Homo sapiens: one gene and its partners. Changing the gene in region 5 together with the main gene of any one other region gives a genetic interaction. Each region holds a gene or a part of one and is shown on either strand. Other genes may lie near its edges. The genes, in order: METAP2, SNRPD3, CTNNBL1, LEO1, CKAP5, NUDC and PELO.

What was found.
Region 1: changes in CKAP5 (region 5) and METAP2 together harm fitness more than expected from each alone (negative genetic interaction), as found in Homo sapiens cells (one large-scale study listed by BioGRID).
Region 2: changes in CKAP5 (region 5) and SNRPD3 together harm fitness more than expected from each alone (negative genetic interaction), as found in Homo sapiens cells (one large-scale study listed by BioGRID).
Region 3: changes in CKAP5 (region 5) and CTNNBL1 together harm fitness less than expected from each alone (positive genetic interaction), as found in Homo sapiens cells (one large-scale study listed by BioGRID).
Region 4: changes in CKAP5 (region 5) and LEO1 together harm fitness more than expected from each alone (negative genetic interaction), as found in Homo sapiens cells (one large-scale study listed by BioGRID).
Region 6: changes in CKAP5 (region 5) and NUDC together harm fitness more than expected from each alone (negative genetic interaction), as found in Homo sapiens cells (one large-scale study listed by BioGRID).
Region 7: changes in CKAP5 (region 5) and PELO together harm fitness more than expected from each alone (negative genetic interaction), as found in Homo sapiens cells (one large-scale study listed by BioGRID).

Annotation. Positions count from the first base shown.
Region 1 is NC_000012.12:95,490,703-95,495,072, reverse strand, and holds part of METAP2 (methionine aminopeptidase 2), read right to left. Parts: intron 1,018-4,370; coding exon 856-1,017; intron 117-855; coding exon 1-116. UniProt on the Homo sapiens protein: Cotranslationally removes the N-terminal methionine from nascent proteins. The N-terminal methionine is often cleaved when the second residue in the primary sequence is small and uncharged (Met-Ala-, Cys, Gly, Pro, Ser, Thr, or Val).
Region 2 is NC_000022.11:24,562,004-24,566,373, reverse strand, and holds part of SNRPD3 (small nuclear ribonucleoprotein Sm D3), read right to left. Parts: intron 1-4,370. UniProt on the Homo sapiens protein: Plays a role in pre-mRNA splicing as a core component of the spliceosomal U1, U2, U4 and U5 small nuclear ribonucleoproteins (snRNPs), the building blocks of the spliceosome.
Region 3 is NC_000020.11:37,696,501-37,700,870, reverse strand, and holds part of CTNNBL1 (beta-catenin-like protein 1), read right to left. Parts: intron 1-4,370. UniProt on the Homo sapiens protein: Component of the PRP19-CDC5L complex that forms an integral part of the spliceosome and is required for activating pre-mRNA splicing.
Region 4 is NC_000015.10:51,957,830-51,962,199, reverse strand, and holds part of LEO1 (RNA polymerase-associated protein LEO1), read left to right. Parts: intron 1-1,466; coding exon 1,467-1,561; intron 1,562-2,155; coding exon 2,156-2,301; intron 2,302-3,373; coding exon 3,374-3,458; intron 3,459-4,370. UniProt on the Homo sapiens protein: Component of the PAF1 complex (PAF1C) which has multiple functions during transcription by RNA polymerase II and is implicated in regulation of development and maintenance of embryonic stem cell pluripotency.
Region 5 is NC_000011.10:46,797,351-46,801,720, forward strand, and holds part of CKAP5 (cytoskeleton-associated protein 5), read right to left. Parts: intron 3,955-4,370; coding exon 3,850-3,954; intron 823-3,849; coding exon 733-822; intron 620-732; coding exon 455-619; intron 1-454. UniProt on the Homo sapiens protein: Binds to the plus end of microtubules and regulates microtubule dynamics and microtubule organization. Acts as a processive microtubule polymerase. Promotes cytoplasmic microtubule nucleation and elongation. Plays a major role in organizing spindle poles.
Region 6 is NC_000001.11:26,941,984-26,946,353, reverse strand, and holds part of NUDC (nuclear migration protein nudC), read right to left. Parts: intron 3,695-4,370; coding exon 3,578-3,694; intron 3,484-3,577; coding exon 3,289-3,483; intron 965-3,288; coding exon 881-964; intron 787-880; coding exon 668-786; intron 225-667; coding exon 173-224; 3' UTR 1-172. UniProt on the Homo sapiens protein: Plays a role in neurogenesis and neuronal migration. Necessary for correct formation of mitotic spindles and chromosome separation during mitosis. Necessary for cytokinesis and cell proliferation.
Region 7 is NC_000005.10:52,794,044-52,798,413, reverse strand, and holds part of PELO (protein pelota homolog), read right to left. Parts: intron 1-4,370. UniProt on the Homo sapiens protein: Component of the Pelota-HBS1L complex, a complex that recognizes stalled ribosomes and triggers the No-Go Decay (NGD) pathway.

The DNA of each region.
Region 1 (4,370 bases), on a different chromosome or scaffold from region 5:
CATTGGGAGTATAATGGGCAGCACAATTATTGAGAGAACATCCAGTAGGAAATGCCAGGCCTGCATTTAATCCATTCTCTTTTATTAACTTGCGTGAACAGTCTTCCAACTTTTCACTAAAACAAAAAAGCAAAGGGAACTTGTTTACTTTTACATTCTTACTTTTATATATTAATACCATATAGTTCATCAAGTCCAGAAAGTTTACTAAAAACCTTAAATACCTTCTGGGAATGATCTGAGCACTTTCTGAATATAAATAAATAACAGTTCTCTGATGCTATGAAAATAGCATATCTTTAGAAGACAAGGAATTTGATTCTGCTAGAAAGTCAGAGAAACACAATCCACTTTTAACTAAATTTACTAGAAAATAAGAGTCTAACTTAGACCAATTTAAATGCTGATCTTATTTGTTCATGTTGTATATTTTTTAAATTGTAGGAATCAGAGAATTACATGTTATACTAACCATTTATCAAAAGGAAAAACTAGAGAATAATTACTTGAATTGGTTTTGTTACTGTATTATCATCATGTTCTGTATTTGGGCAATTGCTCCAATACTTTCTTATTTCTTAGTATGACTTGTTAGATAGCAAAATAACAGATTTCCAGATAGAAAATAACAATCAGTAATGACTACATGTGCACACAAAAGGGTGGCTGAGGTGCCAATGTGTACTCCTCTTCATGGTTTTCTCATAGTGACACTAAAATAATCTAGAAGGCATTTCTACAACCTTTACTTAAAGATTTAGCAAAGTGGTAATGAAAGCCAAACATTATAATTGGAGAGTTAGTACTTAATAAAACATTTTTTATCATGTTCTTACGAAGAAGTATTCCTTTTACCAGATTTCTATCATTGTCATCCCAGGCTTGATCCAGCTCATTACGTATTTTCTAACTTGTCGATGTGCTTCTGCAGCTTCTCGAAAATCATTCCAAATCTCTTCACTTGCCTGATCTAATGCTTTCTTTTCTTCACTTGTAGTTCTCCAAGCAGCTGTTCGCCTTTAGAGTGGGCATAGAATACTATTAGTGATAAAACAGCAGAACAAGCATAAAAGCTGACAACTATACTAAGTAACAAGACAGTTCAAATAAAAATACAGTACATATTCAGTTTATGTCAATAAAGTTTCTGAAATACAAAAAGCCAAACACTTGCAACCAACTCAAATGAAATTAAAAACTTTTTAAGACTCTAAGGGAGGGAAAAAAACCCTCATGTGAGATTTCATTCATAGTCAGAGGAACTAATACCCTGACAACACAAAAAGATAATAAAACAATCAGAAAAGTCTGAAGAGTCCTAGAATCAGAGTAAGTAGGAAAAAGTCATCCTTCCACTTGAGGTCATATATACTTTAGACACTTCAAAGGAGCACAACAACAATTTGCATTTAATTTTGCCAACAGAGTAACTACTAACCCAAGAAACTGACTTGGAAATCTGCATATACTTCCTCAAAACACATATTACATGCGTGTGCTGGGTTTTCCTAATTGTATACATAAATATAAGAGGTATTCTTCCTTGAAAGACATGGCTCACATTTTAAAACTGCCAGTGCTAACGAATTTCTTTTTTAAGAGACAGGGTCTTACTCTGTTACCCAGGCAGATGCAGTGATGTGATCATAGCTCACTACATCCTCAAACTCCTAGGTTCTTCCTGCCTCAGCTTCCCAAGCAGCTGGGAGTATACAGGTGCATACCAGCACACCCAGCTAATTTTTAAAAACTTTTTCTTTAAAGAAATGGGGTCTTGCTATGTTGTCCAGGCTGATCTTGAACTCCTGCCCCGAAGTGATCCCCCTGTCTCAGCCTCCTGAGTGGCTGGGATTACAGGCGTGAGCCACCCCAACTGACAGAATTTTTTATTCAGTATCTGGGAATAAGATCCATGACTCCTGTAGTAGGAAAAACATTAACTGCCTTAAAATGATATTTAAAAAAAAAAATCTAAACAATTTTCACACATTCTTAAATACTGAATATACAGTTTGCAACTTAGTGACCACTGAGTATAAATTACACAAGTGTAAAAGTGATACCTTCAAGGAATTGCTATTTGCCTCCCCTGTTTTATAAATAAAATTTTATTGCAACATGTGCCCACTCATTTATGTACTGTCTATAGCTATTTTCATGCTACAATGGCAAAGCTAAGTAACACTCAAGGCCTAAAATATTCACTATATGCCCTTTGAAGAAAAAGTTCACTCAACTCTGCCCTAAACTACAGACCCTGGCCAAGGTGGGAGGATCACTTGAGGCTAGTAGTTCAAGACCAACCTGACTCTGTCTCTGACTCTGTCTCTACCAAAAAAAATTAGCTGGGCGTTGGGCTTATCCCTGTAATCCCAGCTACTCAGGAGTCTGAGGCAAGAGGATCACTTGAGCCCAGAAGTTCAAGGACACAGTGAGCTATGATTGCACCACTATACCCCAGCCTGGGCAACAGACCAAGACCCTGTCTCTAAAAACATAAAATAAAAAATAAAAAATAAAAATAAATAATAAAGAAAAAAGAAACAGAATTAAAGAAATTCTTTTGCTCAAAGTCTCGAGTTCAGATAGAAAGTTATTAACAATAAGAAAAACCCAGCGTCAGGGTCTATAATTCCAGACTCCCCCAAAACTCCTTATAAGTGGACTAAAAATTTTTTTAAAATCTGCCTCAACACACCTTTACTAAGAGTATTATTTTCCTATATTTTATCTTATTTAGTTCAGTCAATTAAACAAAAGTATAGCAATTAAAGCCAGGTACAGTGGCTTACTCCTATAATCCCAACAGTTTGGGAGGCCAAAGTGGGAGGACTGCTTGAGGACAACAGTTCAAGACAATCCAGGGTGACACAGTGGGACCCTGTCTCCACCAAAATATATACACACACATATACATACACACACACACACACACACACAAACACACATATACATACACACGATAGGCCAGGTGCAGTGGCTCATGCCTATAATCCCAGCCATTTGGTAGGCTGAGGCAGGAGGACTGTTTGAGCCCAGAAGTTCAAGGTCAGCCTGGGCAACATAACAAGACTCCATCTCTACAAAAAGAAAAAACAACTTTAGCCAGGCAAGGTGGTACATGCCTGTAGTCCCAGCTACTTGGGAGAAGGGGTAGGAGGATCACTTGAGCCCCAGAGGTCAAGGCTGAACTTAGCTAGATCTCACCACTGCACTCCAGCCTGGGTGACAGAATGAGACCCTATCTCAAAAAATAGTAATGACCAGGCATGGTCGCTCACACCTGTAATCCTAGCACTTTGGGAGGGCAAGGGGGACAGACTGCATGAGTTCAGGAGTTCGAGACCAGCCTGGGCAACATAGAAAGACCCTGTTTCTACTAAAAATACAAAAAGTTACCCAGGCAAGACAGTGCACACCTGTAGTCCCAGCTACTCGGGAGGCTCAGGCACGAGAACTGCTTGAGCCTGGGAGGCAGAGGTTGCAGTGAGCCAAGACTGCACCACTGCACTCCAGCCTGGGCGACAGAATGAGGCCCTGTCTCAAAAACATAATAATAACAATTAAAATGTATGCATGTATCACATAAAATCCTTCCTCTAAAAACTGGTACTTAAAGGGTAAGAAATAAAGCATATTTTAACTCTGCCTATAAGAAGGAACTATAGTTGATTCCCAGTTGACAGAGAAAATTCTTCTTACAGAATAGTATCACCTAATAAATGTAGAAGGAATGAAAGAATCAAAAATCCACCATTTTGCAGTTCCCAATGAAATAACCCATAAAAGCAAGGATCATCAATGGATATTAAAAGAATTAAGTGAAAAGTTGTTAAGAAAAGGATATTCCTTTCTTCTCAAGTTTGTATAAACTAAATAGGAAGAAAAGGAAGGAAGATAGATATTCCAAATGATACCAAAGTAGCCCCACAGATTACTTGGAAACTGCAAAAAGCAAAAAGTACCTTTAAAAGAAAAAAAAAAAAAAAAGAGTTGGCTGTCACATTAATCAAGAGGTCAAACACAATAAAACTAACAGTAGGATAGCCTGAGATTACATCTAATGTAGCAGAATATGGTACAATGTGAAGGTCATAATCACTTATTTTATACCTCTGTCAAAAATGTTTAACCTAAATCTAATCTAAGCCCATTAACACCTAATTCCAGTTTACGGAAAACACAGAAATAGAGAAAAAAGTTTAACCCCCAACAAGGAAACAATCGGAGAAATCCCAGAACATGAGACCTCTACAACTGCCTGGTTTCTTCAAAGAGATGGGGCACTGAAGAGAAAGAGAAAAAGGTGAGGCCTCTAACCATATGCAATGAGAACCTCAAGTGGATCCTGGTTTTAGAAAGTAAACAAA
Region 2 (4,370 bases), on a different chromosome or scaffold from region 5:
CTTGGTTCTGGGAGGTCGAGGCTGCAGGGAGCTGTGATGGAGCCACTGCACCCTAGCCTGGGCCACAGAGCAAGATCCTCTCAAAAATAAAACAAACAAAACTATGCTCTGGGGCCGCCCCTGTTGTATATGAGCAGTTTCTAGAGGAATGGTTTCTAGAGCTTCTACCCACTATCCCTGTTCTACCTTCAGGGGCAACAGGGCTCCAGTTTCTCATAAACCTTCTGCTCCAGGCTCCTCACTCCCAGCCTGTTATTAAATTTTCATCCAGTTCCCAAGTCCTTACCAATCCTTTTCTTCCCCTGAAGAATACCATAACCTCTAGTGCCACAAATGAACGCCAGGTTTATGGTCAGACTACCCAAGACAGAAACTGGATACAACTCAGGCTCACCTGAATCTGACTGACAATTAAAATGTGTTTTGGGGCTGGGCGCGGTGGCTCATGCCTGTAATCCCAGCACTTTGGGAGGCCGAGGTGGGTGGATCACCTGAGACCAGTCTGGCAAACACGGTGAAACCCTGGCTCTACTAAAAATACAAAAATTAGCCGGGTGTGGTGGCAGGTGCCTGTAGTCCCACCTACTCGGGAGGCTGAGGCAGGAGAATCACTTGAACCCGGGAGGTAGAGGTTGCAGTGAGCCAAAATCACGCCACTGTATTCCAGCCTGGGCAACAGAGCAAGACGCCGTCTCAAAAAACAAAAAACAAACCAAACAAACAAAAAACGTGTTTTGGGGACTGTGCCACACTCATGACTCTGTAGAAGACACAAAATAGGCCTAAAGACCTATAGGTGAGATCCAGCTCTGCCATTTGTCAGAAGTGTAACCCTAGGTATATCTCCAGGCTTCCCTGAGCCTCCGTTCCCTCAACTACAAAGCTGAGTTTTGAAAATACAAGACAACAAAGCCAACAGTTACTGAGCACTTATTAGACATCAAGTGCTGGCCCAGGTGATTTCCCCACGGCAGCTCATGTTACCCCACAAAATCCTACAAGGTAAAGAGATGAAGTGACATAGCCATTCAGAGGCAGATCTGTCCCCAGAAACCCATGCCCTTTCCCTCTATTCTCCTGCTTGAGGTCACACCACGCTTACATGGCCTGGCTGGAGTTTGAACCCAGTTCTTTCTAACTCACACTCTTAACCACTGCACATTTCCTGAAATTGTTAAAAAGCAAATCAGGCCAGGTACAGTGGTTCATGTCTGTAATCCCAGCACTTTGGGAGGCCAAGGTGGGAGGACTGCTTGAGGTCAGGAGTTTGAGACCAGCCTGGGAAATGTAACAAGATCCTATCTCTACAAAAATTTTTAACAATTAGCCAGGTGTGGTGGTGCATGCCTGTGGTCCCAGCTACTTGGGAGGCTGAGGTGGGAGGATGGCTGGAGCCCAGGAGTTCAAGGCTGCAGTGAGCTATGATTATGACACTGCATTCCAGCCTGGGCAACAGAGTAAGACCCTGTCAAAAAAAAAAAAAAAAAAATGAACAAGGCAAAGTATGTCTAAATGCTGTCTCTATTGCCTAATACATAATAGAGACTCAGTACATGCTAAATCTGATTGACAGCTAAAATGTGTTTTGGGAGCTGTGCCACTGCTAAGCCACACTCCCTCCAGCACAGGGGCACATCTCACTCCTTTCCTGACAGAAGCTGTTGCATAAGTCCGACAAGACTTAATCTAGGCATTTCCATAAATGAACTATGTCCTGGCTGAAGCAGGAGAGTCCAGTGTCCTCTGACTCCTATTTTAACCCTAACAACCAGGCTCACTACTGCTCTCGCTTTCCCTGTAGCACTGGCTAAGAACAGCTTGCTGTGGACAAAACCCCACAGTCTCACTGCACACATGCCTGCTAGAGCTTGCTAATAAGCCTGACCTGTGTTTGTATCACAAGCCCAAGGCAGCAACTTTTGAGTGAACCAGATCCTAATCAACTCCAGGCAGGAACACCCAGTTTAATCAACTTTCCTCAACAGCCACAATGAAACACATATGGTATAAGCCAGGTACCCAACTGAAATGACATCCTGAGGGGGAGAGAGAGAATCTTTGTAGCACAAAGTGGTGGGACTTTCTTAGATACCTGGGGCCAAGATGGAGAAAGCTAGCTCCAGGACTGTGAAGGTGTGTTGGGGTGTCTCAGGCCTGTCAATACACCAGAAATGCATTCTTTAGGACAATTTCACACATACACAAAGGCAGAGGTGCTTGGATGCCACTGCTATAATACGAATACCAACTAAGGCCATCTACCTATCTTTGTTCTTAGGAAATACAAAAGTATTATGGGGTAGAGGAGCATGATGAATGCAATCCACACACAAACAGTACAGGAAAAAAAAAGTATACGATAAGTTTAAAAAACTGGTTTTCCTTCAACCTAGAGGGCTAGGTGTCTAAAGAAATTCAATTACATTGAATTCAGAGATTTCAAAAACTTTCCTAGCAATAGTTATGGGCAATTTTCTGACCCAATCATGTGAGAGCTTCTTTTGGGTTCTCATTTTTATACAGTGACACAAGACCATATTCCATACAGAGACCAGTTTTCCAAAGATGGCTATTATATGCCAAAGCCAACAAAACAGATTTCAAACAGTCCCATCAGTGATTGGGTGGTCATGTTGAAGCCCCAAAAGCACAATGTCTGCTTGTGCAGAGCTCTACACCACATTCTCCCACCAAAACTTCTAAGAATTAAGTCATTTTGAATGTAGTGAAATGGGTTTGACCATTACTCTCTGTATTTGCTTGTATCATTTATAATTTGGGTCCATTTTTATAAAACTGGGGACATATTTTGGAGTATTGTTATTTTTCTCACTTATGCCAACAGCATTTTGACCAACATGCCATATCCTGCAGCTGATGCCCTATCCTGCAGCACTGGCCACCAGTGCTTGGCTTGCAGCTGTCGGAATGAGAAGGAGAACAAAAGCTCCCTGCCTTCCCAGCTTAACCTCAGATGCACACCCTCTGACCCGATAAGCACCATTTCAGGGACCTCATCCTGAGTTTCACATACACATATTTCCTCTTCTTCCTTTAAAAAAAAAAATATATATATATATACACACACACACACATATATATACATACATATATACATACATACACACATACACACACACACACACACACACACACACACACACACATATATGAGACAGGGTCTCACTGTGTTGCCCAGGGTGGTCCCAAACTCTTGGGATCAAGTGATCCCCCTGGCCCAGCCTCCCAAAGTGCTGGGATTACAGGCATGAGCCAATGTGCCTGGCCATATTTTGCATTTTCAAATGTCAAAAACAGTGCTAAGATAACAGGATACTTTAAAACTACTTGAGGGACCATAAAAGGGTATTTTGTATGGGGATGTTGTCGAGGATATCATCTAATAGTGTCTCCTGTATCTGAGTGCCAGGGAAATCCACACAATTGCTATTTTAACTTAAGAACACTATGCATTTTGGAACTGATGATCTTCCCTGCTTAATCTTACACTGGAATATACCTTTATTCAATGTACAGAGAGATTCAGGTTTACATTTCTGGATACTGACTGCTTGGCTTCATTTTACATTCTACCCCAGCTTACCTGCACCATGATCTATGCATCTACTTTTATCCTGCCATAGAATTTTTTTAATTTTAGAGATAGGGTCTTGCTCTGTCACCCAGGCTGGAGTGCAGTGGTGCGACCAGAGCTTAATGCAGCCTGAACTGCTGGGTGGGCTCAAGTGATCCTTTTTGCCTCAGCCTATGGAGTAGCTGGGACTACAGGCATAAGCCATCACATCCAGATAATATATTTTTTATTTTTGGAGATGGAGTCTTGCTCTGTCGCCCAGGCTGGAGTGCAGTGGCGCGATCTTGGCTCATTGCAAGCTCTGCCTCCTGGGTTCACGCCATTCTCCTGCCTCAGCCTCCCGAGTAGCTGGGACTACAGGCGCCCGCCACCACACCTGGCTAATTTTTTGTATTTTTTTTAGTAGAGACAGGGTTTCACCGTGTTAGCCAGGCTGGTCTCAATCTCCTGACCTCGTGATCTGCCCGCCTCAGCCTCCCAAAGTGCTGGGATTACAGGCGTGAGCCACAGTGCCCAGCCCCACATCCAGATAATTTTTAAACTTTTTTGCTTTTCAGAAGAGACAGGGTCTAACTATTTCTGAAAGAGGATAGAATAAAAAGTAAATACTAAAACCCCAAAACAGGGCAGGTGTGGCTTAGGCCTGTAATTCCAATACTTTGGGAGGCCAAGGTGGGAGGATCGCTTAAGTCCAGGAGTGCAAGACTAGCCTGGGCAACAGAGTGAGATCCTCTATTTATCTTTTCCGAATCGTTGTGGTGTGCTTTTGTGTGTG
Region 3 (4,370 bases), on a different chromosome or scaffold from region 5:
TGTCTGCAATATCACCAAAACCAAGGGTCCCTTAGCCTCAAATTTGCCTCAAAAAGAATACATCTCATGTCACAAGCCATACTAAATGTGAATTCTTTATTGGAAAACTTCAGAGGTAAGAACTTTTTCCAGACATCTGTGGAATCAGATTTAATGAGAGTGCCCTGGAGTTCATATATGCGCCTATGCCAGCAGAAACTTCTCAGCCAAGGCACTGCTGGGCACACTTCTTGATGAGATGTCTAAGCCTGAAGGCATCAAAAAAGTACATTTCCATATTGGGAACATAACTGGTTCCCTCTTGAAGACTTTTTCCACCACCTCCTGCCCATATTGTAATTCTCCTGTCTTCTCAAATGAATAGTTAACATATGTCAAGGATATACGGCATATACTGAGGCGCTTAGTGCCTATCTCTATTACTTGTAGAAGAACCAATCTCAGCAGAAAATTGGAATCTTCCCACCAAGTCGCCCCAAAAATGAAATGTAGTAAGCACCCAAAAAATGTTAAATACTTTTAATAAACATTTCTTGACACTGCATGATATTTTTCCTGGCTTAGTCTCTGAATTTTAGAAACGGCATCCATCTTAGTCTCTGAATTTTGGAAATGAAAAGAACCAGAAGTCATATCGCTCAGTCTCCTCATTTTACAAGCGATTGAAAAAAAATGATGTATAGAAAGGGAAAGTGACTTGTCCTGAGTCACCCAGATAAGTAATGATAAAAGTGGGATTAAAACCCAAATCTCCCAGATTCTCAGCCCCACTCAGTCTACCACATGAAGCGTTTTTATCCCTTGAAATCTCTGGAGCCCCGGTCTAAATAATTAGTACCACAGAATTTTAAAGCTAGAAGGGGCCTCAGAGAGAGTCGCGTACTTAATCCCCTCATTAGGCATATGAGGAAACTGAGGCCCAGGAAGATTAAGTGATTTGCTCTCAATATCTTGAATGGCAGGGAAAAAGTACAACTTAAGCTCAAAAATCTGCAAACCAATGCCCACAAGAGAGGAAGAGAATGTCTCAGCTGGGGAAAATTTTTCAAGGAAGGGAGATCATTTTAGACCAGGGGATCACAAAGTACAGCATCAGCATCACCTGGGATCTGGTTAGAAATGCAGAATCTAAAGTCCCACAGGAGACTGAATCAAACTCTAGGGATGGGGATGTTCAAATCAGACAATTTTGTTCCCTTATGTCCCTGAGAAGCAAACTTCAGTGGTCGTACTGAGTCTACTTTGTAAATGATAACTATAACCAAAGGCTCATAAGATGTATGTATTATTCAACATGTGGACTATACTTCAACTTTAAAAAGTTTTCAAATCTGAAAACAAAATGGAAAACTACCTCTGAGTGTTCAGCTGGTTTCAGTTCTGGCCCTGCTCCTTACTGGTTGTCTGGCTTTCGGCAGGCAGCTTGACCTCCCTAGGTTGAGTTTCCTTTCCTATAATACAGGCATGCTGCCAACCTCAGAAGGCATGTTGAGAATTAAATGTGATAACTTGTCTGAAAACACTTTGGTTCTGCATCTGGCATATAGCAGGCAGGCAGTATGGCACAGTGGTTAGGAGCTCCAACTATGAAGTAAGACTACCCGGGTACCCTGGACTTGCCTCTACCTAGCTAGATGCCTTAAGGTAGGTGCTCTTTTCTGTACCTCAGTTTCCTTATCTGTACAACAGGGATTAACAACAGTACCTTCCTCATAGGGTTGTTATGAGGATTTAGATAGATCATGCTGGTTAGTAAAGCATCTTTCATGTCTATAAAATGTTACTGTTTTCAAGGAGTTTTTTTGTTTGTTTGTTTTTTGTTTTTGAGACAGGGTCTTGCTCTGTCACCCAGGCTAGAGCACAGTGGCATGATCTTGGCTCAGTGTAACTTCTGCTTCCCAGGCTCAAGTAATCCTCCCTCCTCAGCCTCCTAAGTAGCTGGGACCACAGACACACACCACCATGCCCAGCTGATTTTTAAACTTTTTGTAGAGACAGGTTTTCACCATGTTGCCCAGGCTGGTCTGGAACTCCTGGACTCAAGAGATCCGCCTGCCTTGGCCTCCCAAAGTGCTGGGATTACAGGGGTGAACAACCACGCTTGGCCTCAAAGAACTTTTGCATCCATAAACTCATGACTTTCTGCAAGAGGATGGGTGCAACTGATTATGAACTACATTCCAGCCTTTACCATCTTTTAGGAACAGGAAGAGTGGACATGGATCTTACAAAAAGAAAACTGAATGAACAGAACACATGGGGAATGTACAGAGTTGGAAATAAGGAGACCAGGATTCTGAGATAAGGGCCAGGTGGTGTAAGGAAGCCAGGGCCTGAATAAGGTCCTGAGGTGGATTTTGGGACTGGTGCTGCTTTCCAAGCCTTAGACCATGATTCTGAATTTGGGTTCTGAAACTTAGCCTTGAATTGAGGATATTTCGCTGAGCAAAGGCCTAGAGCTGGTTTTTGGTGCCTAACGGGTGGGCCTCTCACCTCTCGAATGGTTCTAGCCGGCCAATTAACCAAAGTGGGGAACCTGCGATGGGGAAGGAGATGCTCCTGGCTGGCCAGCTGGACATGAGCATGCCCGCCCTAGGCTGGCGAGATCAAAGTGCTCTCCAGTAGCAGACTTAGGAGGTTTCAGCCCTGTTACTGGTTCAGTTCAGTGTTGTCAACCTGAATTAAATGAGTTCTAGTATTGTAGTTCCTTATTGTGCAACCAACATATTTGCATTTTAAAACTCTTAGATTGAACCCTCAGATACAATAGAAAATGTAAAGGCCAAGATCCAGGATAAGGAAGGCAAGTAATATTTTGCAGTTCAGGAAAATTAGCCTGTGGCAACCCCAATCTACCTGTAGGCGCTAGGCATATTTGCTCTTGGTGAGGGGGAAAGGGGTCAGATTGACAAAATGAAATACTTTTGGAATAACACAATAAACAAATGTTTATGATCACGAAGCAAAGCTACCTAGATTGGAATCCTTGAGGTACATTTCACTTGTGTGAATCTGGACACGTTTTTTATTCTCTATACCTATTCCCTCATCTTTAAAATGAAGGTTCCTATATTAACATATTAAGTACTGCCATTAAGATTAAATGTGGTAAGATGTGTAAACATTAAAAAATAATAATAAGGAGACCAGGATTCTAGTTTCAACTCTGGCCACCATCTTGGCCCACAACCTCAGGTGAGTCCCTTTATCAGACTAAGGTTCACTTTCATCCATGAACAAGTGGGTTGAATGAAGGTATCTACCGTATCTCTCAAAGTCAAGGTCTTTATCGTGGCCCACAAGGAAGGCCTACATAGTCTTGTCACATGCCTACATCTTCAGCTTTGTCACTTACCATTCCCCTGCTCACTTCCCGTTTCAGCTACATAGATCCTCTTTCTGGTCCCCTATGAGGCTGCACCAGCTTCTACCAATAGCCTATGTCCATACTTGCTGTTCTTGCTGCCTCCATCATTCTGCTCCCTTCACATGACTGGGTCCCTCTCAACCTTCAGTCCTTTAATGCCCATTCCTCTGTGTCCTTCCTCGACCACATTACATAAAGTAAAAGGTCCTGTCCCCAACTCCCAGGGGTTATTTTCGACAGGAGTGTTGTCCAATAAAAATACAACAAAAGCCACAAACAAAACACCTAACTTTACATTTTCTTTCTTTTTTTTTTTCTTTGAGAGAGAGTTTCGCTCTTGTTGCCCAGGCTGGAGTGCAATGGGATGATCTCAGCTCACTGCAACCTCTACCTCCCAGGTTCAAGCAATTCTCCTGCCTCAGCCTCCCAAGTAGCTGGGATTACAGGCATGCACCACCACGCCCGGCTAATTTTTTATATTTTTAGTAGAGACATGGTTTCTTCATGTTGGTCAGGCTGGTCTCAAACTCCCAACCTCAGGTGACCCACCCGCCTCAGCCTTCCAAAGTGCTGGGATTACAGGCATGAGCTACCACACCCGGCCCACTTTACATTTTCTAGTAGCCACATTTTAAAAGTTTTTTAAAAAGCAACATTAATTTTAATAATATATTTTCTTTAATCCAATATATCGTAAGTGTTATCATTTATTCAACATGTAATCAGCATAAAAGTTAAGGTACTGTACATTATTTTCACGTGGCCAGGGGCAGTGGCTCACGCCTGTAATCACAGCACTTTGGGAGGCCAAGGCTGGCAGATCACCTGAGGTTGGGAGTCAAGACCAGCCTGACCAACATGGAGAAACCCCATCTCTACTAAAAATACAAAAATTAGCCAGGCGTGGTGGCGCATGCCCGTAATCCCAGCTACTCAGGAGGCTGAGGCAGGAGAATCGCTTGAACCCAAGAGGCAGAGGTTGCAGTCAGCTGAGATCTCACCA
Region 4 (4,370 bases), on a different chromosome or scaffold from region 5:
GAACCTGCCTCTTTGTAGTTTTTTTTTTTTTTTTTAAGAGACAGAGTCTTGCTCTGTCACCCACGCTGGAGTGCAGTGGTGCAAGCTCAGCTTATTGCAACTGCTGCCTCCTGGGTTCAAGCAATTCTCCTCCCTCAGCCTCCTGGTAGCTGGAATTACAGGAACGTACCACCATGCCTGGCTAAATTTTTTGTATTTTTAGTAGAGGTGGGGTTTCACTATGTTGGCCAGGTTGGTCTCGAACTCCTGATCTCAAGTGTTCCACCCACCTCAGCCTCCCGAAGTGCTGGGATTACAGGCGTGAATCACTGCGCCCAGTCTGTTTATAGTTAGAGTGAATTCATTATTAGGGGGCTGACCTTCTTATTGGGATGGAGGTTACAATGTCCATTCTTCACTTTGAATAATGACAGTCTCGGTGTTTTGTTCCTAAGTTCTTGACTTAGATGAAGAAACTGATTCTTTGAGCTGTGAGTTAGATGAAGAGCTCATAAAAACCCAGTGTTGGCTGGGTGCAGTGGCTCACGCCTGTAATCCCAGCACTTTGGGAGGCCAAGGTGGGTGGATCACTTGAGGCCAGGAGTTCAAGACCAGCTTGGCCAACATGGTGAAGCCCTGTCTGTACTAAAAATACAAAACATTAGCGGGGCGAGGTGGTGTGCATCTGTAGTCCCAGCTACTTGGGAGGCTGAGGCACGAGAATCGCTTGTGCTCGGGAGGCAGAGGTTGCAGTAAGCCAAGGTCGCACCACTGCAGTCCAGCCTGAGCAACAACAGTGAGACTCTGTCTCAAAACAACAACAACAACCGCAACCACCACCACCACCACCACCACCACCACCACCACCTGGTATTATAAGTTGGAAGGATGAAAGGAGTTCTACCGCCAGGTGTGGCAGCTTCCTTTCTCCTGCCTCAGCCTCCCAAGTAGCTGGGATTACAGGCACCTGTCACCAAGCCCAGCTAGTTTTTGTATTTTTAGTAGAGACGGGGTTTCACCATGTTGGTCAGGCTGGTGTCAAACTCCTGACCTTAAGTGATCCACCTGCCTTGGCCTCCCAAAGTGCTGGGATTACAGGCATGAACCACTATGCCTGGACTGTAATTTTGAATCTGGGATAGACTTATGGAAAATGGGTGTCTGTGGAGTGCTTCAGCCCCAACTTTGAGCATCTAGACTGTAGGAAACATTTGGGCTCCTGGGGAATAAAGGAAAGTGGGAGAACAAGGATGGTGAAAATGAAAGGAGAAATAAGTGCCTCCTGTGCAGCTTGCCTTTCACTAGATTTGCCCCCTTCCCTCTCCCCACACTCTCTGGTTGGGTCTTTGAGAGCCAGGCTCAGCATTATGTTTTTGGTGGTTTTCTGATGCTGGTCCAGAAACCTTGGGAATGTGTTGAAGTGATCAGCTGTGAAGAACCTTAGTTACAGATAGTAACACTAATGCCTTTTTCCTTCTGCATTGAAGATAATAGTGGAACCATGGATTTATTTGGAGGTGCAGATGATATCTCTTCAGGGAGTGATGGAGAAGACAAACCACCTACTCCAGGACAGCCTGTTGTAAGTCAGTTAGTAACATGAACTTATTCAAGGCCAGGCATAAAGTTTCAAAGGTGAAGAGTCTCCCTTATTCCAGGAAAGGAAGTTGATAACTGAATTCTAGTATGAAAATACCATGAACAGATGACTTTCTTCATTATGTAGGGAACTCTTGGTTATAAGGGGGAGTGGAAATAACTGCCAAACATGAGGTTGGTGTCATGCCTTAGGGGACTGAACTGTGAGGACTTGTGATTTGAGAACCATTGACTTGAATGTTTTTCTTGCTCATGCCAAGAAGTGTCTGCTATGTTGATAATCTTCTCTGGTTTTAATTGATAGAGTGACTTCCTATTGAAGTGTTAATTTCACACTTTTGTTGAGTATTTGGAAGACAGATTTATCATAAAGGAGATAGTTTTTTGTACTGAGGTATCCAAATTGATCGTTTCCCATTTTGTGTGTAGGTGGGTTGGGATGGGGACTGGGGACTTCTTTAGTCCTAAAGTGATATCTAATTATGTTTCTTGCACCCCAGAGTAATTAAAGTGTGGAGGTTGAAGGAAGCCATTTCTAAGGTCCTGTCAAGCTCCAAACTTCCGATTCTTTCACTAGGATGAAAATGGATTGCCTCAGGATCAACAGGAAGAGGAGCCAATTCCTGAGACCAGAATAGAAGTAGAAATACCCAAAGTAAACACTGATTTAGGAAACGACTTATATTTTGTTAAACTGCCCAACTTTCTCAGTGTAGAGCCCAGGTAAGGAAATCAATTAAAATTTTTTCAGGATGTTGAGTAGAAATACATAGAATGTTTATTTTTCTTATTTCGCATTGAGTTGACAAATCACAAAAACGGAAAATTGATCGTGTATCTCTGAAAAAATTAGTCAAGCACATCCTGAGATAGAAAAAATATGTATTAGTAAGGGAGGCTTTTAATGCTATGATTGTTTTTAGCAGTTTGATACTTTCTTATGAATTAACAGACACCACAAGTGTTCAAGGTATTTTTTTAATTAGTACAACCCTGAAAAGGCTGAAATTGAAAGCGATGAAATTTGCTAGAGAAATGCCAGTGTCCACTGTAGCAGCTATTGTTGGTCTAGAAAAGGTAATGGTTTTGGACAATTAGACAGTGTTTGATGGGTATTATTTACTAAGTTTACTCGAGCTCTTGTGCTTTTAAAATTTTTTTTCCACAGGCACAATGATGTGGAAAGCTAGAGCATATGTTGCCTATTCTTTGGCAGAGTTACATAAGAAGAAGAAAGGATATTTTGAATATTTACCCTTGCTTGTACTTTATTTCAAGCAATATGTATTAACAACAAATTTTAAGAAGTAAAATTACTGGCCGGGTGTGGTGGTTCACACCTATAATCCCAGCACTTTGGGAGGCCGAGGAGGGCGGATCACCTGAGGTCAGGAGTCTGAGACCAGCCTGACCAACATGGAGAAACACCCTGTCTCTACTAAAAATACAAAATTAGCCAGGCATGGTGGCGCATTCCTGTAATCCCAGCTACTCGGGAGGCTGAGGCAGGAGAATCGCTTGAACCTGGGAGGCGGAGGTTGTGGTGAGCCGAGATCGTGCCATTGCACTCCAGCCTGGGCAACAAGAGCAAAGCTCGGTCTCAAAAAAAAAAAAAAAGAAAAAAGTACAATTACTACTTCCTTGAAGTTAAGCATGAAGATATTGATCATTATGATTTTTAAAATTATATTATGATTTTTTGATATAATGGTGTTTATTAATAGAGATGTTATTACATAGCAGTAATATTCTTTATAAAATATGATTAATAGTTTATTTGGAAAACAATTTGTAGACCTTTTGATCCTCAGTATTATGAAGATGAATTTGAAGATGAAGAAATGCTGGATGAAGAAGGTAGAACCAGGTTAAAATTAAAGGTACCATTTCATGCTTTTTCCTTTTTTTTCTTTTATAAAGTAAAACCTGGAGATACTAACTTGAAACTTGAGCTTTTGAAAGTGATTTTTTTACCTAACACTTCACTATATGGCTGTGTTCTTTTGATTGCTTTTGTTGACTATTAGGAAAGAATTTTATTGTACTAAATTCCCATTAATGCTTCTCTTTGATACCTTATACCATCTGGTCACGCTATCAAAGGAGGGCCTCTAATCTTTTAAGTAAGGAGGATGTAGGTTCAGCAGAAGTTTCATCTTTTTATTTTGAGACACGGTCTTGCTCTGTTGTTCAGGATGGAGTACAGCGGCACAAACCCAGCTCTTGGCAGCCTCAATTTCCTGGGTTCAAGTGATCTTCCCATCTCAGCCTCCTGAGTAGCTGGGACTACAGAAAACATGCCACCATGCCCAGCCTTTTTTTTTTTTCTGTAGATATGAGGTCTTGCTGTGTTGCCCAGGTTGATCTTGAACTTCTGAGCTCAAGTGATCCTCCCGCCTTGACCTCCCAAATTGCTGGGATTACAGGCATGATTGCTACTGCACTTGGCCAAGTAGACATTTTAGAATTGAGTTGCACAAGGGAACAAGAGGTGGTTGAATGCATGATACTGAAACTGGAATTATGCATTTTCAATTCTTAAATCCGAAGGATTTCCTGTAAATTTCTTATTTTCTAGTGGGTATTTATATATTTTTTTTTGAGAAGGAGCATCGCTGTGTCGCCCACGCTGGAGGGCAGTGGCATGATCTCAGCTCACTGCAACCTCTGCCTCCTGGGTTCAAGTGATTCTCCTGCCTCAGCCTCCCAAGTAGCTGAGACTACAGGCATGCACCACCATGCCCAGCTAATTTTTGTATTTTTAGTAGAGACAGGGTTTCACGATGTTGGCC
Region 5 (4,370 bases):
AGCTAAACTCCATCTCAAACAAAACAAAAACAACAACAACAAAAAAAAAAAAACAAAAATTTTTCGGGTTAAGGAAACCCTTGGTAATCCATTTAGCAAATAAGTATTTCCTTTTCCTCTTACCCTCTATCTAAAATAACTCACTCCCAAATGATCTTCAAATACTCCACATTTGATGCCTATGCTTGGCCAGATTCAGCTGAACACCAGTATATGGGACAAGTAAGAAACAACATGTTTAACAGTTAATGGAATCATAACACTAACTTGTGCTTTCTTTCAAGAAGAGGAACACAGGAGAATTTGGATTCAGTTTCCAAGCTGCAAAGGCTCTGCTCCTCAAAAGATCATAACCTCTATAGTCTGAAAGTCAAGTAGTCACTGTACATAATTTGCAGGAAAAGAATCTTGCCTAGGTATAAAATATTCCCCCAACTTCAAAGAGAGTCTGTACCTTAAGTAGTGCAGCACAAAAGGGCTTTAGCAAGCTCTTTGGCAGGGTAGAAGCAGTGCAGTGGCGGAAACTTCTTGCAATAAAAAGAGATGTCTGCTGCTTGATGGTTGGATTTTTATTATCCATTACTGCTAAAACATCCTCACTGATGTTCTGTAGTGTGGTCTTTAGAAAGAAAATGTGGTTAATGAGCTTTTTTCAATTGTAAAGAACAATCAAAATATTATATTTACAAACTTTACTTCAGATAAAACTACAAACTCATGCTGTCAACTTACAGTAAGGAAGATTGCATCAATTGCCTCCTGCAGGGCTTGTACCACTTGAGGTTTCTTCTCTTTGAATTTCTCCAAGATGGTTGGCACAACCTGTAAAAGTGAATGGCTAGCACATTATTCAGCAACAAAGAGGAATGATATATTGATATATCCTAGAACATGGCTGAACCTTAAAAATAGTATGCTAAGTTAAAAAAAAAGCCAGTCACAGGCTGGGCACAGTGACTCATGCCTGTAATCCCAGCACTTTGGGAGGCTGAGGCAGGTGGGTTGCTTGAGGCAAGGAGTTCAAGACCAGCCTGGGCAACAGAGTGAGATCTTGTCTCTACTAAAACAAACAAAAAAAAATTAGCCAGGTGTGGTGGTATGTGCCTATGATCCCAGCTACTTGGGAGGCTGAGGTGGGAGGATTACTTGAACCCAGGAGGTCAAAGCTGCAGTGAGCTACGACTGCATCACTGTATTGTAGCCTGGGCAACACAGCAAGACCCTGTCTTCCAAAAAAAAAAAAAAAGCAGTCACAAAGACCATGTATTGTATGACTCCATTTACATGAAATGTTAAATCCAGAGACAAAAAAGTAGATTAGTGGTTGCTAGAGTCAAGGGCAGGGAGCAGCATGGGGAGAGACTGTTAATGGGCAAGGGGTTTCTTTTTGGGGTGATGAAGATGTTCTGGAATTAGATAGTGCTGATGGTTATGTAACATTGTGAATATTCTAAAATCACTTTAAGAGGGTAAATTTTATAGTATGCAAGTTTTATCTCAATAAAACTTACTTTCTAAAAAACCACCTTGTCTCCACCAAAACAAACCAATAAAGCAAACATTTAAGTGGAATAAAAAGTCATTTCCTTTCATGAAGGACATCGTATCTTATGCCGGAACAATGAAGAATTCTCATTCTCTCCCACTATGGCAGTGCTTCTCAACCTATTTGCCGCCTCTGCTCTGTCACCCACGTGGGAGTGCAGTGGGATGAACATGGCTCACTGAAGCCTCGGCCTCCTGGGCTCAAGTAATCCTCTCATCTCAGCCTCCCGAGTAGGTAGGCCTCAGGTATATGTCACCACACCTGCTATTTTTTTTTTTAATTCTTAATTTCTTGACCATTTCCCTGTAAATATAATTTTTTATTTTATTTTTTGTCGAGACGGGGGTTTCTCCATGTTGCCCAGGCTGGGGAAGAAAATTTCTAAGGTCCAAAGGACACAGCAAAGCTCAATGGCATCCAAAAACAAGAAATAATTGTTTTCAAGATTTCACAGAAGTGGTTATAGACTACTTGGTATAGTTCAAGGACTATGGTTCCCATGGAAAAATACAAGACTTTTTAATACTAGTTATAAACTTGAAAATCAAGATATTTTAATGTCTATAAAGCTAACATTCACTTTTATAAATATTGCCAAAAAGTTTGTAAACATTTAAAGAAAATAAAGCCAAGTCAGTAACATGCTTGATACTAAACACCGCATATATTACAGTATTAAGGTGGGGGAGACCCCAAACTACAGAGCAATAGAGACATTCTTTAACCAGGACAACAAACTGAAACAAAGCCAGAATCAGAACTCAAACTGGAAAGCCAGTTAATTATCCAACCATAATTTGGTAAATTAAAATGAATTTTAGGCCGGGTGTGGTGGCTCAAGCCTGTAATCCCAGCACTTTGGGAGGCTGAGGCAGGCAGATAGCTTGAGCTCAGGATTTCGAGACCAGCCTGGGCAAGGTGGCAAAACCCCATCTCTACCAAAAATACAAAAAGTACTCAAGCATGGTGTGGGGTGTGCCTGAAGTCCCAGCTACTCAGGAGACTGAGGTGGGAGGATCACCTGCGCCTAGGAGGTTAAGGCTGCAGTGAACTGAGATGGTGCCACTGCACTCCAGCCTGGGTGACAAAGTGAGACCCTGTCTCAAAAAAAAAAAACTAAAATTATTCTCTGAACTGATATTTAAGTGGTGTAGGAAAAAATTGTTTTTTATCTTGAAAAATTATTCCCAATATAAAAGTGTAAAATATCCTAAGTAATATAAAATTGATCAAAATGGCATATACACATCGATATTATATAATATTGATTGCTATAAAAATAGATTTTAATTTTATTTCAATTTATGATGTATATGTCTAAGGGTTTTACAGACCCTTATTTTTATTTCCCTAGTAATAAGCCAGTCATGATTTATTTTTATTTGGTAGTGTCTTCTTTTTCTTCAGTTAAGTTCTCTGAGATTATTTTTAATGCTATGAGTAAGCAAGCTCCAAATACCATAGCTCATGTGAGGCTAGGTATTAGCTTCACAATATAAAATGGACACATGACTAGGGACTATTAGGAAACTCCTAAGTCAGTCTAGGGAATCAAATGATGAAGGGGCTAGCAAGCTAAACTCTAAAGATCAATAAGGTCAATTTTTAGGATGCTGAGCCATTCTTAGTAATGCAGACCGGATTTAGAGGCCAAAGGACAGATGCCACAGTTAAAGAAAACATCTTAATTAAAATTATTACCAAATTTGATTGGAAACAAACTTATACAAATAGTAAGTCAACAAATGTCTCCAGTCAGATTTTCTTTGAATAAGTAAAACGGAGATAACCTATATAAAATATATAACATTGTAACCTATATAAAATGTCTCAAATATGTAAGTAAATTATATATTAAAATAGGAAAACAATGTAAAACACATTTTATATATTAACCTCACAGTTTTACATTTATAGTTTTACATTGCCTTTCCGACTCTCATTTTCATTCTGGTCCTGGTCGTTACAAGTTTTGTTTCATCTTGTTATGATGTGTATAATGTTGTAAGAACAAAGCAAGATACTAGTAAGTAAATAAGTAATAAGCAAATAAATAAACTCAACTAAGTACTTTAGGCCTAGTGCCTGACTTTCTACATAAGGCCTATAAATTTTGTTACAACTGACATCTACTGAAATTTCTAAGATATATCTATGCTGAATATTAACAAAACAGAGAGAAATTTACTTTGTACAGTATATACACATCTATGCCAAGGAGTTGTTTTAAAGCAAACAGCAAACTAGGCCTACCATTTTTGATAAATTTTGTTGATCTGTATCTAAAAAGGAGTGTTACTTACATGTCCTGCATATTGTCCAAATTTCTTCCTTAGCCCAACAGCCAGGCCAGTAAGACATTTTGCTGCCAAAGCCACCAACATGACATTGGTGTCCTTTCCAACAACCTACAAAGGGGGGTAAAAAGGAAAACAAAATAGTCACAGCCATGTAGAAGGGTATTGAAATTTTATTCTCAAAAGAACTCTGAGGCCGGGTGCAGCGGCTCACACCTGTAATCCCAGCACTTTGGGAGGCCAAGGTGGGTGGACCACCTGAGGTCAGGAGTTTGAGATCAGCCTGACCAACATGGTGAGACCCTGTCTCTACTAAAAATACAAAAATTAAGCAGGCATGGTGGCAGGCACCTGTAATCCCAGCTATTTGGAAGGCTGAGGCAGGAGAATCACTTGAACCTGGGAGGCGGAGGCTGCAGTGAGCCGAGATTGCACCATTGCACTCCAGCCTGGGCAACGCAGCAAGACTCCATCTCAAAAAAAAAAAAGAACTCTGAAAGCTCTTATGCTAATATATGACCAATTTT
Region 6 (4,370 bases), on a different chromosome or scaffold from region 5:
GAGGACAAGGTCCCAAGACCCAGCCTTTCTCCTGATGCCCCGGGACCTGTGTGCCTGGGCCAGTCCCATGCCTGCCCCAAGCCCTGAGGCCCACAAGTCCCAGAGAAGAGTGGGAAAGAAAGTTGGGTGGTTGCAGCTCAGCCCCAAGAGTTCAGGGAGGAAAAAACAGGGGCTAGTTGAATTTAGCCTTGGAAAAATCCATCTCCGGATGTTGATCCATGAACCTGGAGAAACGGAAGCAAGATGAAACAGCTCATCCTTCTCTTCTAAAGCTGTCCCTTCTCCCAGCACCCCCGTGTCAAGTCTAATCTCTTTAGACCTCAGCAACACCAAGCCAGGCTGGGCAGGAGCAGGGCCCAGGGTATCTGAGACGCATTTGAGTCCCGAGGCTGGAAGCTGAGGCACCAACACTGGCATTGTTTTCCTGTAGGTGGCAATGACCGCCTGTTACCCCTTCCCTCCTATCATGCACCATGAGCCGGCCTTGCCCTCAAGATGACCTCAGCAAATGACAAGAGTAGGCAAGCCAAAGCCATAAAGCCATAAACATGGCTGGAAAGGGGGCAGGGCAGCTCCTGAGGCAGCGCAGTGATCCACTCACTGCTGTCACCGAAGTCTAAGCCCCCAGGCACCCACGGTCCCCCAACCCCGTCTCTGAATTGCTCACTTCTTCAGAATCTCCTGTTTCTTCTGTTCGTCTGAAGTTGGCAGCCCCATGGACTTCTGTCGCTGGTCATACATCATCTTTTCCACCATGCTGCGAGTCTCACTGTCCAGGTCTGACAGCTGAGGGCAGGCAGTGACAGGAATCGGTGAAGCTCTGGAAACAACGAGGCCCCTCACCTTCCTGCTGAAGCTCCCCCAACCAGCCAGGGCTCACCTTGGAATTCTCAGGGTTAATCTTCTTGGTGTTGATCTCAGGGTCACTGGACACCAAGCGGCTCCACCACTCCATCTTATTGATCTGTGAAGAGAACAACCAGAGGGTGGGAGGTGGCCTGCTCTGTGCACCAGGAATCACCCCTTAACCCTTTCACAACCAAACTCTCTCCCATCCACATCCTGCACCTGAGACCCTTGCAGGCCTACACTGGATCCAGAGGTACAAGACTGTGCCCTTCCTGCAGCTAGGGGAGACACAGAGGCAAAGAGTTACAAATCAGTGTGATAAGGGAAAGAAGAAAGCAGAAAGGGAGATATTCATCCAGGGTGGAGGGAGAAAAGTTTGAAAGTGACACTCGGGCTGAGTCTTAAGACACAAAGCAGTATTCCAGATTTAAAATGGGAAGAAAATAAATATATATATTTTTTGAGATGGAGTCTTGTTCTTCTTGTCCAGGCTGGAGTGCTGTGGCACCATCTCGGCTCACTGCAACCTCTGCCTCCCGGGTTCAAGCAATTCTCCGGCCTCAGCCTCCCGAGTAACTGGGATTATAGGCATGCACCACCACACCTGGCTAATTTTTGTATTTTTAGTAGAGACGGGGCTTCACCATATTGGGCCAGGCTGGTCTCAAACTCCTGACCTCAGATGATCTGCCTGCCTCAGTCTCCCAAAGTGTTGGGATTACAGGTGTGAGCCACCATGTGCAGTGGTGCAGTCAGCTCACTGCAACCTCCACCTCCTGGGTTCAAGCGATTCTCCTGCCTCAGACTCCCAAGTAGCTGGGATTACAGGCGCCCACCACCATGCCCAGCTAATTTTTTGTATTTTTATTAGAGATGGGGTTTGCCATCTTGGCCAGGCTGGTCTCAAACTCCTGACCTCGTGATCTGCCCACCTCAGCCTCCCAAAGCGCTAGGATTACAGGCATGAGCTACCACGCCCAGCCAGAAAAAGTTTTTAAGCAGGGAAGTGCCAGGTGCAGTGGCTCCTACCTGTAATCCCAACACTTTGGGAAGCCAAGGCAGGAAGATCCCTTGAGCCCAGGAGTTTCAGACCAGCCTGGGCAACATGAGACCCTGTCTTTACAAAAAACATTTAAAAATTAGCCAGGTAGGGTGGCGCTCGCAGTTACTCAGGAAGCTGAGGTGGGAGGGTCGTTTGAGCCCGGGAGGTCAAGGCTGCAGTAAGCCGTGATTGCGCCACTGCATTCCAGCCTGGGTGAGAACAAGACCCTGTCTCAAAAAATAAAAAATAAATTTAAAAGGCAGGGAAAGGGCTGGGCATGGTGGCTCACACCTGTAATCCCAGCACTTTGGGAGGCCGAGGTGGGCGGATCACAAGGTCAGGAGATCGAGACCATCCTGGCTAACACGGTGAAACCCTGTCTCTACTAAAAAATAGAAAACAAAACAGACAAAAAAAAAAATACAGGCATGGTGGCGGGCGCCTGTAGTCCCAGCTACACTGGAGGCTGAAGCAGGAGAATGGCATGAACCCAGGAGGCGGAGCTCGCAGTGAGCCGAGATCGCGCCACTGCACTCCAGCCTGGGCGACAAAGCAAGTGCAGAGGCATGGAGGGGTGAGTGAGTGAAGGCAGCCAGTGCCAGTCGGACAGGCTGTTACAGGGTCTTATGTGCCCTGGGAAGTTCTCCTCAGACCCTTGGCCCTTTTCAGACCACCTTTATTTACTGATCTCTGTGTCCTACCTCTCTGTAAAGGCAGTGAGGTTGAGAATGAAGGCTTCCTGAGGGCACATATTTTCCTATGTTTTGTTCACTGTTCTCTTTCCAGCACTTAGAACAAGAACAGTACCAGGCACAGAGCAGGTGTTCAAGTATTTGATGAATTGAATGCATGTACAAACCTAGTGAAAAAGAAGTGGCTTTAGAAACTAAGACTTTCAATTCTGACTCCACCCCTTCCCAGAGGTAGGAGCTTGGGTAAATCAACGAGCTCTTTTCCTGACTCAAGCCTGTAATCTCAGCACTTTGGGAGGCCAAGGTGTGAAGATCACTTGAGGCCAGGAGTTCAAGACCAGCCTGGGAAATATAGTGAGACCCCCCGGTCTCTACAAAAAAATTTAATAACAAAAATTAGCCGAGCGTGGTGGTGTACACCTGTAGTCTTAGCTACTCAGGAGGACGAGGCGAGAGAATTGCTTGGGCCCAAGGGTTCAAGGCTGCAGTGAGCTAAGAAGGTGTTACTGCACTTCAGCCTGGGCAACAGAGTGAGACCTTGTCTTTAAGAAAATAAAATAGAGACAGATCTACTTTAAAGAGTGTTGTCATGGGGATTAAGATAATCCCACAATGCCCCCAGCATGGCTCCTGAGTAAACTAAGCACACATCCTCCCTTCTACTTCCATCAACACCCCAGGCTAGAAGGGCTGGGCCTCACATACCTTCTCCAGATGCACAGTCACCACCTTGCCGTCCTCAATGAGCCACGAGCTCTCCTCCACCTTCACTTCATTGTAGAGCTCCCCATCAATGATCGCTGGCTGCCCCTTGAGCCCCACCCGGAGGTGCCGCCGCTGGATGTCCACCACCATGTCCTTCCCTTTCAGCCGGAAGTTCACACAGAAAGGGACCGCCAGCTGCATAGGGCAGAGGCAGTCAGAAGAGGCCACTAAGTGCTGCTGGTACCCCAGGCTGGCCCCCTAAGCTTTACCTCTGGTCCCTGACACTCACGTCCAGCTCCGACAGGGTCTGGGTCCAGCGGTAATTGGGCAGGTCTGCCCCGTTGCCTAGGTTGGGCTTCAGTTTTCCTTTGTCCTTCTCATCTTCCTCCTCATCTTCCTCAGTATCCTGCTTACAATCAGGGACACTCAGCTACTTACTTGACAGACAAGACACAGATTGAACCCTCACTGGGCCAAGCCCAGGGCTAGCACTGGGCATACAGCCACAAAAGAAAACAGACCTGGTCCCTGCCCACTCCACAGAGGGGCAGACCCCCAAGCCTTGGTCCACTGGGAACCAGGTAAAACTTGGTTCTGATCTCAGTCTGAGAGGAGCTCAGACTATTAATATTATACCATGTGACAAAGGATATGGCTGGGCCCACAGAACCCAGCCAACCTCAGATGGGACCTGTAATAGGCACTGCCCTCTCTGGCTATTGGGTTTTCTTGCCATAAACAGGTTAAGGTCAGTCGGTTTTTATTTTATTTTTTTGGGACGGAGTCTTGCTCTGTCGCCCAGGCTGGAGTGCAGTGGCGTGATCTCGGCTCATGGCAACCTCCGCCTCCCGGGTTCAAGCAATTCTCTGCCTCAGCCTCCCGAGTAGCTGGGATTACGGGCGCCCACCACCATGCCTGGCTAATTTTTGTATTTTTAGTAGAGATGGGGTTTCACCATCTTGGCCAAGTTGGTCTTGAACTCCAGACCTCGTGATTTACCCACCTCGGCCTCCCAAAGTGCTGGGATTACAGGTGTGAGCCACTGCGCCTGGCAGGTTTTTATTTTTTTAACCTGGATCCTT
Region 7 (4,370 bases), on a different chromosome or scaffold from region 5:
TCATTATCTTCCTAAGAGATTATCAGGGGACGGAAAGGTCCCCTCCAAGGGGAAAGTCCAAATAAGAACCACTACTTATTAATATTTGTGGCCTCTTTTCTCTTTGTTTCTCGCTCTCTATGTCTCCCCTTACTTCCTCCTTCTTCCCACCTTCCTATCATACTGAGTACCCTCAAGAAGTTCCTAATTCACATTGCCTTCTTCCAATTCCAGGAGAACCCAGCAACTTTTCACTAAGCAAAGAACTAATCACACTCAAGTGTGAAGGTGATTTGCCTATCCAAAGGACACTGTATTTTAAAAAAAGTATCTTGTTAACTTAAAATTCCTAATTGGTAGGGTGAAAGTGTGCTTGTGTGTGTATTTGTGAGAGAGAAAGAGAGAGAGAATGAGGAGATAATTTTGAACTGGGGCTTTGAAGTGCTCCTTGATCATCTTTCTAAGTACAATTTATCTTTCCCATAGTCTGCCAAAGATTAAAAGCCACAGAATCACAGTGGTAAGCACACAGTGGGATCTTAACAAAAGGTTTTTATTGAAGAGCTATCACGTATTGAATGTTTATCAAGTTCTTTCCTATGCTCTAATTCTCCCCTGTAAGGTAAATATTTGTTATCCTAATTTTATAGAAGAAAATCAACTATGGGGAAGTTAAGAAATGTTTTCAAGATCACATGACTAGCATTGAAATTCAGGCCTGCATAACTCCATACCCTCTCTTTCTACTACCACCATCCTATATTATGAATGTTTGTAATCATCTCCTTCACTGCAAATTATGTGCTATTATCCACTGTCACTTCCCCTCAACTGTCACCTTTACCAGCTAAACAAAAACTCACAGCTTGGGAACCAACCTAGAGGATTTGAAAGGCACTAGTCCCTTTCCTGCTCTTTTATCACCTCTTAAAATTATTATACTTTTCTCTTCTACATAGTTTTTTTTTTTCCTTCTGTCCAGCCTAGGTCATCATCATACTCTTAGAGAAAGATCTAATGTTCTACTTTAGAAAAATATACATATATTTATCTGTACATTAGAAACCTGTGAAAAACCCTTATTGACTCTTAAATCCATGGTTAAAAAAATTTTTTTTTAAGTTATGAGGCAAACCACTTTGGGCCATTTTAAAAAATATCAGTGTGCCTCCATAATTCAGTATACTATAAAATCTTTCATAGAATTACTGTTGTATGTGAAACAACTGCAATAGTTGGGAACTTTTTTTTTTCCTTAGTAATTTAAGCCTGTAGTTGACTATTAGATGTTTTCACCCAGATTTTGTTTATGGCTTAGTATTTCTAGACCAATCATTATATTTTTATTTTGATTCATTTTGGATTCCCATTCCCTATGAATTAACGTCTACAATCCCAATTTGCACTGGCCTTACAAATTTACTTCCCACTTTTCCCCTCAGGGCACCCTATATTCCACCTTGAAAGTAACCTTTGTTCCCTACATATGCTAGGAACTTTCTCGTTTGCTACCTTAACTCATACTAACTTCTCTGTTTAAAATGTCACTTCCTTTCATCCCTGCTTCCTTTAGTGCTGCCTATCTTTAAAGTCCAGCTTAAATGTTATCTCAAACTTGAAACCATGTAAACTTGAATCCATGTTAATTTAAACATGTATCTTTTTTGTTGAACTCTGGAAGGATTTATCTTTATACTCCTTTGTCCTTTTAAAGGTCCTTTGCACATAGTAGGCACTCATATATTAATGATAAGCTAGGTGAGTCAAATGTAAAGTATGGCAGCTATTTTAACATTATTACAGACATTTCAAGACATTTCTTAAGGCACTTACTTATATTGTTATTGACTGTATTTCACTTAATAATGGTAGTTCAGAAACTGCTGTAGTTATATATTTATTTTCATTTTTTTCCAAATGAGCAAAGTATTGAGAAAAATACCAGGGCTTTTAGCTCTTTTGCTTTAAATACTAATTTTATACTTATGTATTGGCTGTTTAAAATAGAAAACTTTATATCAGTAACTTTATATCAGTATAAATCTTTATATCAGTAACTTTAATTATATCTATTTTCCCTACAATGTCTTATTTATATTAATCTCTCCAGAAGGGGAAAAAAGTATTGTTACCTCCAAAAGTTTTTAATTTGTTGCTCTTGAGACACTTCCAGTGTCTCAAGAAGAGAACTGGGCTAGAAGTCAAGCATCCTGGATTGTAGCTCTTACTCTTCAATTGTTTTTACTGTAACTTTTGGCAGTACTCAGTCTCTCTGGAACCCAATTTATTTCACTGAAGAATTGAGGGAATTGAATTCAATAATTAAATTTCTAACTAAAAATTATGCTGCAGTAATATTTTTTAAGTGTTTAAACAACACCTATAATCTCATCCTAACATATTTGTTTTCAATTTTGCGTGCTATCTTTCAAATCTGATTTTTCTAAGACCCATTTCAGAGGTGAAAGACTGATTCAAAGTTTCTTGTTTGTGGACCAAGAATTGGCAGACCTCAAATATGGTCTTTCCTGGATGGATTCTACCAACTTGAAATAAGTCCCAGACCGCAATAAAGCTAATTATTTTTCATTCTAAATGATAAATAAGATTATTTGTCCTGCTCTCTCATTTGACCATCCTTATGAGGTCCTAGTGATATTATGATACTTGATATTAATAAATTATAGAGCTCTAAAAATGCCTGGCTTGAAGCTAGAAAACTGGATCAGACAAAACAAGGGACAAGAGCTCATTTTAACATGATCATAATTATTCAGCCTTGGAAAAATAACTGGTTTGGTAGAGTTGACTGATGGATAATCTTTGGGGTACATTTATTTATGTTATTTATGTTATTCAGCTCTACTGAATAAAATGGTTCATGGACCTCATTGGTGAGTTGAATTACTATCTTTCCTATTATAATAATATAAAAGAAATGGTTTGTATGACATGAAATGGAATTATGGGCTCCTGAAAGATGGAAATCTTGTTTTAATACCCTCTGCTTAGCTTGTGACCCTTAAACAGTCGGGGCTGTATAAATTTTCTTGTTTTCATCTTGTATTTTATTTTGGAAGGCTTACTTTCCTGCAACACAAACCTAATCTTTTTGTTATTCCTTATAAAGCACCTTGGGAGCCTCTCCCACCATTGTGTCTTTCCATGTCTACTACCTCTTCCACCAGTAAAGGCAGAGACTTACTACCTTTTATTTGTCTTTGTTCTCCTGGAACACAGCATAACAAGTGGCACATACTCATATTTTTAGTATGCAAAAATTAATGGTTATTAATTTTTCTTTAATTCAGAGTTTTTAACTTGTCTGTAACTGACATTCTAAAATTAGGAAATCACATTCTGTTTTATAATGTTACTAAAAACTTAAAAAGAAGGTTACTCTTAAGGTAAGTTTGTATAAGCCTATTTCAATATTTGAGATAGCCGTGCTTAGGTAAGAAAATGGTAATTTAAAATACATCTTCCCCAGGAAAAGTTCTTAAAATATTTTAGAATAACACATAATGGCAATTAGTTTTATTATACATGGTTTGGAAAGTGAACTTTACAAAATAAGAAGCCAGAGCTCCAATTATGAATATCTAGTGATAAACGCAATTGTTTATTTAGAGAGAATGTGCAAACCTCAGATTGTGCAAAGGTTCCCATGTGACCTCCACCAGCAAAGCTAAGTGGATGACTGGGAGGATTAGTTAGCTAATATAGACAAAAGGGTAAAAGGGAAAGTGGTTTTTTTTGTTTGTTTTATTTGTTTTTTTTTTTAAGGAACTTGTACTCACTCACTATCTAAATTTCTCATGATGGAAAGTGCTTACTTGCAGTTGTCACAAAATAATACAAAACCTCCTACCAAATAAACAAAATCCTATGAACAGAAGTGTGTGTGTGTGTGTGTGTGTGTGTGTGTGTGTGTATTTCTATTTGCATGTATTCTTATACGGCATAAGATCATTTCACCAAAAATATTATAAGTAAAATGTGTTACACAGATATTTTTAAGGATTGGCCAGTACCCATGTATTTCTAGACTTTAGTATTTGGTAAAATAAAAGTCTAATTAATAAAATAATTTTGAAAGTACATTTAATTTGTAGTAAGGATATATGATTTGTAACAAAATATATAAACCATCTTAACTATTGATGTTTTAAAGTGACTTAGGTGCTATATTTAAATTTAAGAATTTGCATTTATTTTAGGAGATCTCATATAATTCATACAAAAAGAGTATGTGTATCCACTCCTTTGCATATTTGAATTACAATGATTTCTCATTTCAGATCTCTTACTTATCTTGTTAATAGGGATCTCCTGTTTGGATAAAATTGATTTTTTTTAACACATAAAGTGAATTCCTAACACCAACCAGC